Homo sapiens: one gene and its partner. The protein of the gene in region 2 interacts with the protein of the main gene of each other region in a pairwise test. Each region holds a gene or a part of one and is shown on either strand. Other genes may lie near its edges.

What was found. Proteins that work in one complex are often made in the same cells at the same time.
Region 1: the proteins of DUSP29 (region 2) and SRSF11 interact in binary tests that used the Homo sapiens proteins (3 or more experiments, as listed by UniProt).

What each region holds. Positions count from the first base shown.
Region 1 is NC_000001.11:70,216,364-70,224,385, forward strand, and holds the start of SRSF11 (serine/arginine-rich splicing factor 11), read left to right. Parts: upstream 1-5,016; 5' UTR 5,017-5,273; coding exon 5,274-5,476; exon of another isoform or gene 5,477-6,402; coding exon of another isoform or gene 6,403-6,435; intron 6,436-8,022. UniProt on the Homo sapiens protein: May function in pre-mRNA splicing.
Region 2 is NC_000010.11:75,056,628-75,063,649, reverse strand, and holds part of DUSP29 (dual specificity phosphatase 29), read left to right. Parts: intron 1-5,101; 5' UTR 5,102-5,135; coding exon 5,136-5,335; intron 5,336-7,022. UniProt on the Homo sapiens protein: Dual specificity phosphatase able to dephosphorylate phosphotyrosine, phosphoserine and phosphothreonine residues within the same substrate, with a preference for phosphotyrosine as a substrate. Involved in the modulation of intracellular signaling cascades.

The DNA of each region.
Region 1 (8,022 bases), on a different chromosome or scaffold from region 2:
TCAAAAGCCTATCAGAAATCATGCACTTTTCTATAATGTGACTTTATAGGCCAAATGATAGGTTATTTAACTTTTTTTTTTTTTTTTGAGATAAGGTCTCACTCTGTCACCCAGACTAGAGTACAGTGTCACGATCTCAGCTCACTGCAGCTTTGACCTCCCAGGCTCAGGTGATCCTCCACTTCAGCCTCCCAAGTAATTGGGACCACAGGTGCACACCACTACACCCAGCTAACTTTTTTGTATTTTTTGTAGAGATGGGGTTTCTTTGCGTTGCCAGGCTGGTCTCAAACAACTGGGCTCAAGCAATCCACCCACCTCTGCCTCCCAAACTGCTGGGATTACAGGGATGAGCCACCATACCCAGTTGCATTAACTCATAATAAAATTGATAATAATGATCATTTATATATAACTAGAAGCTTTCCCTTACTTACATCCAAAGATGAGCCAATTGAACCTTCTCTGTGCATACTTCCTTCACTTTGCTTTCCACATGACAAGATTTCTAAGTCTCTCTCTGAAGTATAAACTGGAATGCATTCACTTCACAAAGAGTGGACTTCTTTTCTTGAAAGCTTCAAACTTGTTCTTATCCTTAGGGTCTTTCTAATTTGTTATTTCCTCTGTCTGGAATACTCTTCCTCCAGAAATTCAAATGTCTTGCTTCTTCCTTTTAGTAAGGTCTCAGCAGATAACACTTTTTCCGCCATCCCCTGTCCTATTTCATTTCATCACAACACATTAGTCCTTTCATCTTTGTGGGGTTTTTTGTGTTTTTTTTGTTGTTGTTTTTTGTTTTTTGTTTTTTTGAGATGGCGTTTCGCTCTTGTTGCCCAGGCTGGAGTGCAGTGGTGCAATCTCAGCTCACTGCAACCTCCGCCTCCCAGGTTCAAGCAATTCTCCTGCCTCAGCCTTCCAAGTAGCTGGGATTACAGGCATGTGCCACCATGCTCGGCTAATTTTGTATTTTTAGTAGAGGCAGGGTTTCTCCATGTTGGTCAGGTTGGTCTCAACTCCCGACCTCAGGTGTTCCGCCTGCCTTGGCCTGCCGAAGTACTTGGATTACAGACATGAGCCACCGCGCCTGGCTGTGTTGTTTTTTTATTGAAAGTCTGCCATACTAGACCTGAAGTTTTATGTTATCAGGGACATTCACTTCCTTTTCCCTACTCTATTTCCAGCAGCTGGGAAAATCCTTGGAACAGATTTACGTACATAATATTTGAAGAAATTTGTGAGTTTTTTGACTGCCTCTCAATGATATTGTAGATACAGTGAATAAAACAGGCATGAATCCTGTCTCCAGATTCTATATTTTCTATAGTCTTGTTTAATTGTGAGCCTAAATAAATCTGAAGTGATTTAAAACTGTCATAGATTGGTTATATTTATTTGCTTTAATATATCTGTCATTCGTCTTCAGGTATATGTCTTATTCCTATGTAAAACAGACATTAACATAATTATTTAATCTATTAGACCTACAAGAATCTTCAAAATTATGATTCAACTCTTCATTTGACTGAAAAACTGACACAGGTTCTTAGAAGTGAAGTGAAATTTTCTCAAATCACATGCTTGATGACAGGGGTGGGTTTTTTTTGTTTGTTTTTTGTGTGTGTTTTTTGTTTTTTGTTTTTTGAGACGGAGTCTTGCTCTGTTGCCCAGGCTGGAGTGCAGGGACGCGATCTCGGTTCACGCCATTCTCCCGCCTCAGCCTCCCGAGTAGCTGGCACTACAGGCGTCTGCTACCACACCCAGCTAATTTTGTTTTTGTATTTTCAGTAGAGATGGGGTTTCACCATGTTAGCCAGGATGGTCTTGATCTCCTGACCTCGTGATCCGCCCGCCTTGGCCTCCCAAAGTGCTGGGATTACAGGCATGAGCCACTGTACCTGGCCAACAGGGCTGGTATTTTAAGCCAGCCTTCTAACTTTAAATTCAGTAATTTTTTGTTGTTGTTGTTAGCTGCTAAATGATGTGAAAATAAAATATTTTAAAATCCTCTTCAGTTGCATAAACTTTTTGCCACTTAGTTTCTCTATAGCAAAGTATCATCTATTTGTTCAGTAAGTTATTGTACATAAATTGGCTTCTGGTGGTTTAAAGGATTTTATTACAACTACCTTTTTCTTTGGTTTGAATTTGTAGTTTTAATTATGAAATGTGTCAAACATACAGAAAAATGTAGAGTCATATAAAAGATTTATGTGTACCCATCACAGAGAATAAATAAGTGTTAACATTTCAGGAAAAAAAGAAAAAGGCATGAACCCTGACCTTCTGTTATTTGTCCTTTTATCATCAAATATTTTAGCATGCGTGGCATATAGTAGGCACTCACAATAAATGTTAAACTATTAAGTATCTGTAACTGGCAGTTACATATGTCTGATTCAAAATGAGAAAATTAATTACCATTCTTTGTATTCACAGATACTTATTTATGAGTGACGTGCAGTTAGTTATACAATCAGCCTCCATAACCATGTGTTCCACATACTTGGGTTTAACCAACCCCCATCAAAAATATTCAAAAAATAAAAAATAATGACATTAAAAATAAAAGGTTTTAGAAATACAGTATAAAAGCTATTTACATAGCATTTACATTGTATTCAGTATTAAAGTTGAGTATCCCTAATCCAAACCAAAATCCAAAATGCTCCAAAATCTGAAACTTTCTGAGCACTAACTGGCACAAGGTAAATGCTCATTGGAGCATTTCAGATTTTAAATGTTAGGATTAGGGATGCTAAATCAGTGAATATAATGCAGATATTCCAAAATCTTTTTTAAAAATCCAAAATCCAAAACACTTATGGTCCCAAGCATTTTAGATAAGGGTTACTCAAGAGTATGAGGGTATGTGCTTACATTATATGCAAATACAGTTGTACCAGTCCTGAGGTGAGTATTCATGGGGAATTGATACCAGGACCCCAGAGGATATCAAAATACACAGATGCTCAAATTCTTTATGTAAAATAGGATAGCGTTTGTATATAATCTGTGCACATCCTCCCAAATATTTTAAATCATCTCTATACTAATAATAATACAATGTAAATGCTGTGTAAATAGTTGTTAGACAAGAAATAAAAAGTCTGTACATGTTTAGACCATCAATTTTTTTCCAAATATTTTCAGTCCCAGGTTGGTTGAATCCACATACATGGAACCCATGGATACAGATCAAATGCTTTATTACACAACACCATTTTACATAGGGGATTTGAGCATCCTCTGGTTCTGGTATTTGTGGGAGGGTCCTGGAACCAATCCCCCACAGATACTGAGGGACAGCTATATGCTTTTCTTTAAAATTCTGAAAAGTCTTGGCTCTAGCTAATGTTAGTTGATTTCTATGAAGGCCATAATTTGTAATTTTGCTGAGGCTCACATTCAGTCAACCCATCCATTTTCTGTATAAGCACTAGTGAAAGTCACTTAGCCAGTTGGCTCTACACCCAAATCTCAATAACCTTGTGCTCTAATCTCTCACATATTGCATCTTGACTGCATTGTGCCAAGAGGTATTCACTAATGTAGATACTCTGTAAGGCTTCAAGTTTGTTTGTTTGTTTTTACCTCCAAAACATCTAAAACTTTTACCTCTAAAAACATTCAAGGTCAAGTGAATTATTTAGTGAACTGTCTTAAATGCCATTGTCATTAAGGTATATTTGTGCGTGTGTCCAGCACATTCATTGGGACTGACTGTGTGACAGACATTGTGCCAGGTTCTGGACTGACCCAGGAAGCTCACAACTTTGAGTGATACATGTCAATAATAAATACATGTATCTTCTGTTACTTAGCAGAAAAGAGGAAGCCCTAACAGCTTGCAGAAGTCATAGCAGTGAGGGAAGGAATGCTCTACAGAAGATGACAGATAAGATGAGTGATGTTATTAATAACTTGTGTATCGGCACAGAGACATTATGGTTTTTGTCATGTTTGGGGCACTACAAGTCACTGGACTACACACTGGATGCAGTTGAGAGAATAGTTCAGATGAGGTTGAAAACAAAAGCAAGGATTTTTTTAATAGTCAAAAGCTTCAAAATTATTTTAAGCAAGAATATGTATGTGAAACAAGTTTTTCTTGAGAAATTGCAGTATTTTCTTTAGAAATATATACTTGAATATATTTAAGTACTATAAACTGTGTTTCCAAAGTCAGCTATTGTGGAATTGGCTGGGTGCAGTGGCTCACGCGCCTGTAATCCCAGAACTTTGGGAGGCCAAGGCGGGTGGATCACCAGAGGTCAGGAGTTGGAGACCAGCCTGGCCAACATGGTGAAACCCCATGTCTACTAAAAATACAAAACTTAGCCTGGCGTCGTGGCAGGCGCCTGTAATCCCAGCTACTCCCGAGGCCTAGGTAGGAGAATGGCTTGAACAGGGGAAGTGGAGGTTGCAGCGAGCCAAGATGGTGCCACTGCACTCCAGCCTGGGCGACAGGGCGACTCTGTCTCAAAAAAAAAAGTCATCCATTGTGAATGAATGTACAAAACGCTTATTAATAAGTGTAATATTAAAATATATCTTTTCTGAAAGTTTTAGTGACAAAACAAATTAGTTACAGATTTAATGTTACCAAAATTCATGTACATTGAAAATTTCGGGACATTTTATACTGGTGGTGGTGGGGTGGCATCTTAGCTTGGGTTTAAATATCATTAGTAATCGGATAGCTCTGTAGATGATTATCAGTATATAAAGACATCGTGAGCAGTATTTAATAAGAAGAGTTGCTGAAGTGACTTTTGCAGGAGGATGAATGCTTTTTTTAAAAAAAAAGTTTATACGTGCCTCTTCGCTCTTCCAAAAAAAAAAGAGAGAAGAAAAAGAAGAATAAAACGAGAGACGAAGGTGGATAACACCTTTCTCTAGACCCCGGTGCCTCTCATTTCTCGGGCTGCAGGCGACGGCTGCTGGGCCTGCGCGGGGTGGAGCCGACGCTGACGCGCCCTGCGCCGCAAAGCATTGTGGGAGCTCGGGCCCGCTAGTGTCGTGGTTGGAGGCGAGGTGGGGCGGCCGTTTGTTTTCTCGTGGTCTCGAGCTCGCGCGCTCTCATCCCCTCCCCCGCGGCGTGCGGCGGGGCGGAGAAACGGCGGCGGCGGCGGCGGCATCGGCAGCAGTAGCAGAGGCTGTAGCATCGGACACCCTCCTCTCTCCCGCAATCCGGTTCCTCTTCCCCCTCCTTCTCACTGTTTGTTGTGTGTTTGATGTGTTAAAGCAGGAGCGAGAACCCGAGCAGCGCCATGAGCAACACTACCGTCGTCCCCAGCACTGCAGGTCCGGGCCCCAGCGGCGGGCCCGGTGGCGGAGGTGGTGGTGGCGGCGGAGGCGGCGGCACCGAGGTAATCCAGGTGACTAATGTCTCCCCGAGCGCTAGCTCTGAGCAGATGCGGACTCTCTTCGGTTTCCTAGGCAAGATCGACGAACTGCGCCTCTTCCCGCCGGAGTGAGTATCGTCCACCATCACTGTTCCTGCTAACGCCGCCTCAGCCTGGGCCTAACACACACAATTTCCTTAGGCCCCTGTCGCTGCTTCCCCGGGCCAGGCTGCTTGAGTGGCTGGTGGCTGGTGGATTTACTTAAGACGGTTGTGTTCCAGGCCTACAAAAAAATGCAGAGAGGCAGGGCCAGGGCTTTTTGGAATTAGGAAACACTGGCTGTTATTCTCGGGAAATTTTTTTTTTCCGCCTTAAATTGTGCCAACGTGGTCGTTTGGCTTTGGGGACTTAACGCAAGACTAACCGCAGTCTGTACGTCGTATATAGGTTAAATCCCTTTTTTAAAAAACTGAGTATTTGTTCTTTGCGTTCTTGGAAGAAAGGTAACAAAATTATTCATGCCTGTGTTAATTTGGTGTTAAACTTTGTAGGTTGTTCACTTATTGTTATTGCTGTTATGTGGTTCTGGCCCAGCAATATAATTCAAAGATCATATTCTTTTTGACAGACGCTTAGTTTAGTGTGAGCCTGATTACTTAATTTGTATAATGTCAAAAAACGGGTTATAAACCAGAGATTTTCCTTTGTTTGAATAATATACAGATTTGTGATATTTCACAGTTGTTCTTGAGAAGGATTTTTATAAATGTTGAAATTTGAATTAGAGTGTATGACTTTTTATCCTTTTTGTCTCACTTTTATTTTGAAAATTATTTCTATCGCAAGAATATTAAGTGGATGAATTGTAAAGAAAAAATAGTTCAAAGAAGCTAAGAAGTAAGATAAAGTGTACTACTAAAACAGACAATTGGAATAATAATAATAGTCTTGTGCTTTTTGGAAGACTTATTGGTGGAGAAGTGACAATTCAAATGTCATTATCAGTAAATATCATATATTGAGAATTTTATGATGTCACTTAAATACTAAACAGGAAATTGGAATCCTCTAAGAATCTACTGTTATGGTACGTGTAACCATTAACTTTCTGCTCAATAAAATAATTGACAAAAGTTTATCATAATGAGATATTTGTTAAGTATTAGCATATTTCATCACTTTCCACTTAAAATACTTTCACAAGATTATTGGTGTTTTCAAATTGGTATGTTTCTAATTTTTAGGGAAATGTACATGTGGAGAGAGGATTTACTTAGTTTGCATGACGTGGAGTTCTGGGAACAAACACGTAAATCTTTATTCCTGTTATTTTGACAGATACTTGATTTGGTAATGAAAGACAAATAGCTTTCATAACATGAACATACAAAAATAGATGCTTTGCTGTTGTTCAGTTTTCTCAAGACTTACTGTTTTAAGCTTGTAAAATTAATGAACAGTAAAATAGCAGAAAATAGTGATACATTGGATGATTTTAATAGTTTTATTAGTGAGATATTTGAGGTATTCGAATTACTACAATTCTTTCCAATCCTACAAGTTAAAAATTTTGTTATGGTTGCTGACTTTTAAATGCTGTTTATTCTCTGAAGGCAGTTTTATGATGCATTTAGAAAAAAGGTAAGAGAGATGTAGGCATTATACTGGTTCATCTTTTACCTAATGCATGACCAGTATACTAGAGGAAGTTGTGATGGACCAGAGTCTTTTTGTTTTGTAATCAAATGAATAGTTCCTTCATAACCAGGACAGCTAGTGTGTGCTTGAGAATGTCTCCCTCAACTATATGATCTGGGATATTCTGCATTAAAAGGACTCCCTTCCCAGTATTGGGAGAAAGAGAGATAAATTGACACATTTTTACTCTGACTCCTTCATTTATCTTCCCACATACAAGATCATTTTGTCTTTTAAAATGTACAAGGTTACAATAAGTTAAATGTTATTAGTGGCCTTCTACATTTGATCAGTAATGTAGATGGCTACTTTTATTTACTTGATGTTGCATTTTGTTTTTTTAACTATAAGTTTCAATACACTAATCTGACTGGCACAAGTTGCATATAGTTCCCAGTGGTCCACAGGGTTCATCATTCCAAAAATATTTATTCATAACATTGAATGGCTCAGATTACATAAAATTCTATCTGTTGTGAACAGGTCACCTGATTGTAACTATTATCTACACAGTTGGCCTTCTTCATCTCTGGGTTCCACATCCATGGATTCAGCCCACTGTGAATTGAAAATATAAGGAGAGAACGTCTGTACTGAACATGTACAGACTTTTTTCTTGTCATTCCCTAAACAGTACAGTATAGCAACTATTTACATTGTATTAGGTATTATAAGTAATCACGAGATTTAAAGTATGCAAGAGGATGTGCACAGGTAATATGCCATGATTTTATTTTTCCTCCACCTCTTCCCCCTCCCTGCATCATGTTATATAAGAGACTTGAGCATCTGTGGATTTTGTTATCTGCAGGGAGTCCTGAAACCATGGATACTGAGGGAAAACTATATGATTTCCCCCAAGAAGGCAGTGACATGCACCTGTAACTCTTTTTCCCCTAGACATATCTGTGACATGCTTAACTACTTTTATTTTTCCGATGTCACCTTAATCAGAGAAAACTTCCCAGACCACCCT
Region 2 (7,022 bases):
AAGGATGTGTAAGCGAGCAGAGTCCCACTCTGGGCAACTGGAGCTCCAACACACGGGCCAGCCTCCAGGAGACTGTGCAGGACATATTTCAAAAGTGGTCCACTCAGGGTTGAGGAAGTGGGGATGTTTATCCACCAACTCCTGCCTCTAATTGGTGACAACTTCTGGGGGATGTTAACTCCACATACTGCAGGCCTGACCAGCACAAGGACTAGAAAATGCCCTCAAGCAGGAAAACAGGCATCTGAGGTAGGAAGGCTTTTATGTATATAAAGAACTGTCCACTTCTGCTGCAGTGACTTGAGCTGAGGAGGCACCTGTAGGCACCTGTAGTAGATGCTATCCTTGTAACAGGGCAAGAATAGCATCGATTACAGGGGCTTACATTTAAAAATCAATAGATTTCTCACAACAATCTATGAGGATCATAAAAATACCAGAAAATCTGGGCTTGCATTCCCACATGGGACAGCAAGCTGCTGCCCCCTTAATGGAGGCATATGCTCCCTGATGTGCCACACTCCCCACCACTCCCTAATGTCTCTTGCCTGAGGCCAACAGCCAGGTTTTTGTTTGTTTACTTTTTAACACCCAACCTACTTCCTTCCTCTATGTTATCTGCCTGGCCCCTCCCTGAAGGAGCCTGAGTTTGTCACCTTTTAAGGAGGAGACAGGCTGCCATTGCATGTAGGCCAAGTCGTCTCGGAGACAGCATTTGATTTCCTGGGACCAAATCTTTAAATATGAAGCTGTAACAGGAACCTGGGGGCCTCTCTTGACAGCCTGCCCAGCTCTCATTATGACATTTAGCCTGTGATTGATATTGTGTGTGTCATTGAGACCTTGGCAGTTAATCTCTGGGTCGAATCTATGGAAACCAAACAGAACAGATTTGTCTTCCCTTCCATGTTGGCTGTGATCTGGGAAACAGATGCTCCTGGCCTCTCTGAGAATTAGAGAGTTGGGAGCCATGCAGAGAGGGTGCACACAGGCCGCCTTCAGGATTTGGAAAGATTACAGGTCTGTGGTTTCTGGACGGTTCCACACTTTGTTCTCTTTCCCCATCAAATCTGCGTGCTGGAGGATAATAGATCCCAGGGCTCACTCTGCGTGCCAAGCTCCTCGGGGTAGACCGCACCACTTCCTCCTTTGTCTGGAAATCCAGCCGAGGCTTTCAGCACAGAGATGGAGACGGGGATGGTTCCCTCCACAGTGTAATGAAGGAAGAATGGCCTCACCAAGGGTGAGGTCAGCTTCAGTGATCAAAGGAGGCAGACGGAGGTTTCAGAACGGAATTGACTCTAGCGTCTCCCGAAAATCACCTCTTCTGAAGCTTCCATTAACCGCAGGCAGGGTTCAAGATGGCCTAAACCACCTTTAGGTGTATGGTGCCCAGCTTCTACTCACTTCGAACAAGAAGAGTGGGTGCCATGGACGAGCTGAGCTTCACACCTTTAGACACTGTGGGCCTGAAGCAAGGAGGGCTATAACTACGTATGCTCTTAGGGGACTGAAAGGTCTGGGCTCGTTTCTGTGAGAAAGATTTCTGGCCACTCCTTAAAATAATTTCTTCCTTCCTGACTGGAAACACAGCAGGCAGGCCCCAGAATAGAGTTTGGGCCTGAATGACCACCCGTGGGGGAGGGCAGCCCACCCTGCGCCTGCAGTCCCCTCACCTTCTCCCTCCTCCAAATCAGCCTGGAGGCTCAGTCCTGCCTTAGCAGCTCTTGCTGAGCCCCTTGCACAGGCCTCACAGCCCTTAATCATTCCTTCACCCCTCAGTCACTCATTCACTCATTCCATTCATTCACTAAGCCACTTCCTCATCCAACCCATATCTCCTGAGCACCTCTTACGTGCCAGACACCAAGGCTACAGAGAGAAGCCACACTCAGGAGCCCCGAAGCAAGGTCCTCTCTCCTCCCAGCCTGCAGCTGCATTCTGGGCCAAAGACCGGGCCTCCCACCCCACTGGGACAGCGGGAGGCATTTTGAATGAGCACCCTCACTACCTTTCCCTTGACTCCGCAGCACCCTGGCTCTCTAGCCACATCTCAGACAATTATTATCAAACTTTACTAAGCGTCAGACTCACTTCGGAGCTCATTGAGATACAGATGCCTGCGCCCCTACGAGGGTGCAGCCCGGATATCTGTATTTTTGGTTAGTGCCAGGTGACTCTGACAGACGTGGTCTTCAGACCACACTTTGAGAGACTTCACAGGAGGGTCCCCTTTGCTGCCTATTGCCCTCTCCACACTTCACCAGGAAGCAGGAAGTTGTTGGAGGAAGTCACAAACCCTGGCTTCCCACAATCCCTACAGACACTCATGGCTAGCTAGTGATCCTTTAAGTCATCTGCTATGGACTTGGGAGAATCCAATTCCCCAAAGCAGTGGTCTCAACCCTTTCCTTTTAAATTTCTATCATGGAGAATTTCAAACACACCTGAAGAGAAACAGCAACTGGCCAGGTGTGATGGCTCACACCTGTAATCCCAACACTTTGGGAAGCTGAGGTGGGAGGATCACTTGAGCTCAGGAGTTCGAGACCAGCTTGGCCAACATAGCGAGACCTCATCTCTATTTTAAAAAAGGAAAAAAGAGAAACAACAACTACCTTATAACCATCATCCAGCCCCAATCACCATCACTCATAGCCAGCCCATCTCATTCACACCTACATCAATACCTTGCCCCAACATTATATTATTTATATTTTCCAACTATATTATTTTTGAAGCAAATATTTCAGTATGTTTTTCTAAAAGATAAGGCCCTGTGGTATAACGTAACTGTCCTCGGAATCTCCAGCAAGTCGGCTGATAGATATAGACCTCTTTGGTGAGATGATTCCCGCCATGGTGGTGTGCTCTTCTATTCGAAGGCATATGATGTCTGACCATCTCTTCTTATTCATACGTGGCTGGCAGTTTATGCTCAGTCTCTGGATGCAGCAACTCATCAGGTGGTGTAAAATGGTGCTTCCTTCTTTATTCATTATCTGGAATACTTCTATAAAAGAACATTTCCCGTATCAACCCAGTAGTATATAGTTTGTAAAAGAGAGAAGCAATACATGCAGATTCTTCTCCTTTATCTATCCATCTTCAAAATAAGGAGCTGGTTCCCAAACATCTTCCAACCGTGCATAATAAGTTTTGGGTTTTTTTTTTTTTTTTTATAAGGTCTCACTGTGTTGCCCAGGAGAGCAGTGATATGATCTTGGCTCACTATAGCCTCAGCCTCCTGGGCTCCAGTGGTCCTCCCACCTCAGCCTCAGCCTCCTGAGTAGCTGGGACTACAGGCATGCACCACCACACCCAGCTAATTTTTGCATTTTTTTGTAGAGATGGGTTTTGTCATGTTGCTCAGGCTGGTCTTGAACTCCTGGGCTCATGCAATCTGCCCACCTCAGCCTCCCAGAGTGCTGGGATTACAGGCATAAGCCACTGCTCCCGGACTGTTTTCAGTATTATTATTATTATTTTGAGATGGAGTTTCACTCTTGTTGCCCAGGCTGGAGTGCAGTGGTGCGATCTCAGCTCACTGCAACCTCTGCCTCCTAGGTTCAAGCGATTCTCCTGCCTCAGCCTCCCAAGTAGCTGGGATTACAGGCACCCGCCACTACACCCGGCTAATTTTTTGTATTTTTAGTAGAGATGGGGTTTCGCCATGTTAGGCAGTCTGGTCTTGAACTCCTGACCTCAGGTGATCTGCCCGCCTCGGCCTCCCAAAGTGCTGGGATTACAGGCATGAGCCACCGCGCCTGGCCTTCAGTATTATTATGACCTAAGTGTTTGATGTGTTTTGATCCACTGGAATTATTTTTATTTTTCATGTTCAAATTGTTCCAGTTTTGATAAGTGGAAGCTTCTTCAAGTTGTATTCTGAGTCCCTTTGACATGTTCCTAATGGTCTTTGAAGCCATGAACCCTTTCCTACATTCTCTGCATCCCCGGCCTGCCCCTCCTCACACTGCACCTCCCATCTCCCTCCCCCTGACACTAAGACCCTGTGCTACAGACAGCCTCAATTCATGATCCTCCTTATCTGTAAAATGGGGCTAATGATAGGGTATTAGGATAACCCTATCTCAGTGTTGTTAAGATTAAATGGGCTTACAATCATCAAGCACTTGGAATAGTGTCTGGCACACAATAGGTGTTATATAAGTATTTGTCAAATAAATAAACAAATAGCATTCACCTCCATGGTTCTCAGTCTTCCCACCTTTTCCTCCTTCTCTCCAGTCTCCTTTCCCAGGCTGACCATAGGTGCATCATTTACTCAGCTCAGGAAACAATCAATGTCCAATTCCACTGCAAATTCCTCTCCTTGGGGACAATGGAAAGTCCTCTCCCACATTCCACTGGCAGAGCCTAACAAGCTCTCCAAATGCACATTTCAGTCTCGAGGCACAGCTTTCTATCTTGGGGCATCTCTTCCAATCCCCTTGGTAAGTTAACACAGTGATGGCCAGGCTCCCAGTGTGAGAGTGTGAGCATTGCCTTCAGCTCTTCTGACAGGTTAACCCTCATGCAGCCAGGTTTCCTCCCCTCTCAAGGCTTCTGAAGTCCTGCTGATGTGCGTGTGGCCCAGACCCAGGCCCGGGCAGGTATGGCCTTGGCGATGTACTCTTTCCACTGGCTGACGGCTCCCTGCAGACACTGAGAGGGCCACAGGCCTGGAATGTCAGGAATCTTCTGGGCCTTCCTATTTTGGGTCCCAAATGGCCCAAACCAGTAGGTTTCAGTCAGATAAAGGAAAAAGTAGGAACCAAAGGAGTAAAGTCTAAAGAAAGGTGGGAAGGAACTGGCTGCTTGCAGGATTTCTTAGCTCCAGAGCCCGCCTTGGCCCACGTCCAAGGACCCCAGCTCTCCTTCTCTAGAAAGATTGGAACATTGGGGAAGTGTCATTTAACTGCCATCATGGCCTTCCTTGTTTACCTGTGTGGCCTGGGAAGAGGAAGCCGGGGCATAGCAGGTTGGGGAAACTCTTTCCAAATTTTAAGATAAGCTTATTCCCACCTCTTTTTGTAAAGCCTATTCCCTGCCTCAGTGTCCCCTGCTAACCCCCATCCTGCTTCTCTCTCATAACCAGCTGCAGAAAGGAGAGAAAATCCCTTGGCTCTAAAATGACATCTGGAGAAGTGAAGACAAGCCTCAAGAATGCCTACTCATCTGCCAAGAGGCTGTCGCCGAAGATGGAGGAGGAAGGGGAGGAGGAGGACTACTGCACCCCTGGAGCCTTTGAGCTGGAGCGGCTCTTCTGGAAGGGCAGTCCCCAGTACACCCACGTCAACGAGGTCTGGCCCAAGCTCTACATTGGCGATGAGTAAGTGCCCAGGCCCAGGCTCGCTTGGGAGCAGGCAGCAGCCCCTCCCCAGGCCACGCCCTGCGCCACCTCCTAGCCATGGGCTTTGGAATTTGTAGTCGTTCTGTGAGAACTCAATTAGTTAGGGCTGGGCTTGCCTTCACATTACAGAAAACCTAAACAAAGTCTTAGGCAAGATAGAGGTTTATTTCTCTCTCACATATAAGTGCAGAGGGAGGTGGGCTGGGGCTGGCACGGCCACTGCAGGGTCATCAGGGACTCAGACTCCTGTGTTTCTGCGCCACTGTCCTGGGGACGTGGCTTCTTCCCTCCAGGTGCTGCAGGGTCCCAGATTGCCGCCAGGACCCCAGCCATCAACTCTAGGACCCAGACAGCAGGAGGGTGGAGGGAAAGAAAGAGCAGAAGGGCATCTTCCGAAAGCAAAGTCCCATCCCAGACTTCCCCTGCCCCTAGCTGCAAGGGAGCCTGGGAAATGTAGTCTTTTATTTTAGCTAGCTATAATACCCTCAAGAATAAAATCAGTTCTTAGGTGGATGGTGCAGGAACACATCAATATATGCCTGGAAGTATGGGAGCCTAAATTTAGGTCACTGTCACCTCCTTTAGATTTTTATAACCACCATTCCCCACTCCCTACACAACTGAGATGCACCTACTGTAAATAATATTAATAATGATAACGACTATCCTTTCTTGAACACTGTATGCCAGGCATTGTGCTAAGCATCCTGCATGCATGATCTCATTTTACTCTCCTGATAACCCAGTGATAGAGGCTAATTACTCCCATTATAAAGATAGGGAAACTGAGGCACAGAGCAGTTAAATAACTGGCCCAAGTCCCACAGCTCAGTCAGTGGCAGAGAGCTGGGATTAAAATGCAGCTCTGCCCAACCCAGAGGCTTGTTCTTAACTGCTCCTCCCTCCACTCTCCCGGACTCCAGCCATGTTCCATCTCACCAAGGAGCAGATGCAGATGCTGTAGGACCCCTCCATATATTATTGTATTTATTTTTTTTCTTTTTCTTTTTTTTTCGAGACAGTCTCACCCTGTCACCCACGTTGAAGTGCAGGTTGGAGTGGTGTGACCTCGGCTCACTGCAACCTCTGCCTCCTGGGTTCAAGCAATCCTCTGTCTCAGCTTCCCAAGTAGCTGGGATTACAGGCACCTGCCTCCACACCTGGCTAATTTTTTATTTTTAGTAGAAACAGGGTTTCACCATGTTGGCCAGGCTGGTCTCCAACTCCTGACCTCAGTTGATCTGCCCACATCAGCCTCCCAAAGTGCCGGGATTAAAGGTGTGAGCCACCGTGCCCGGCCTATATGTGATTTTAATACATATCTTGCTGCTTAATACCTGGAGATAATCGTCTAGCCATAGGAAGATCCAGGGTAAGCATCCCTTGCCTTTCGTCTTTCTTTTTTTAAATTGAAAAAGTTACAAATATGACATGCTTAATTATACTAGGTTAAATGAGGTAGAGGGTTATAAAGACAAACTGCATAATCTCCCTTTGTCTCCTCTTAATTCTACCCCTGACTAACCAGTGTTAAATTTACTTGCATACTTCTACTACCTTGTGTGGGCTATTGCCAACATAAGGAAACATATACACACATATAAAGGGTTTACTTTTTTTTTTTTTTGAGATGGAGTCTCCCTCTGTCACCCAGGCTGGAGTGCAG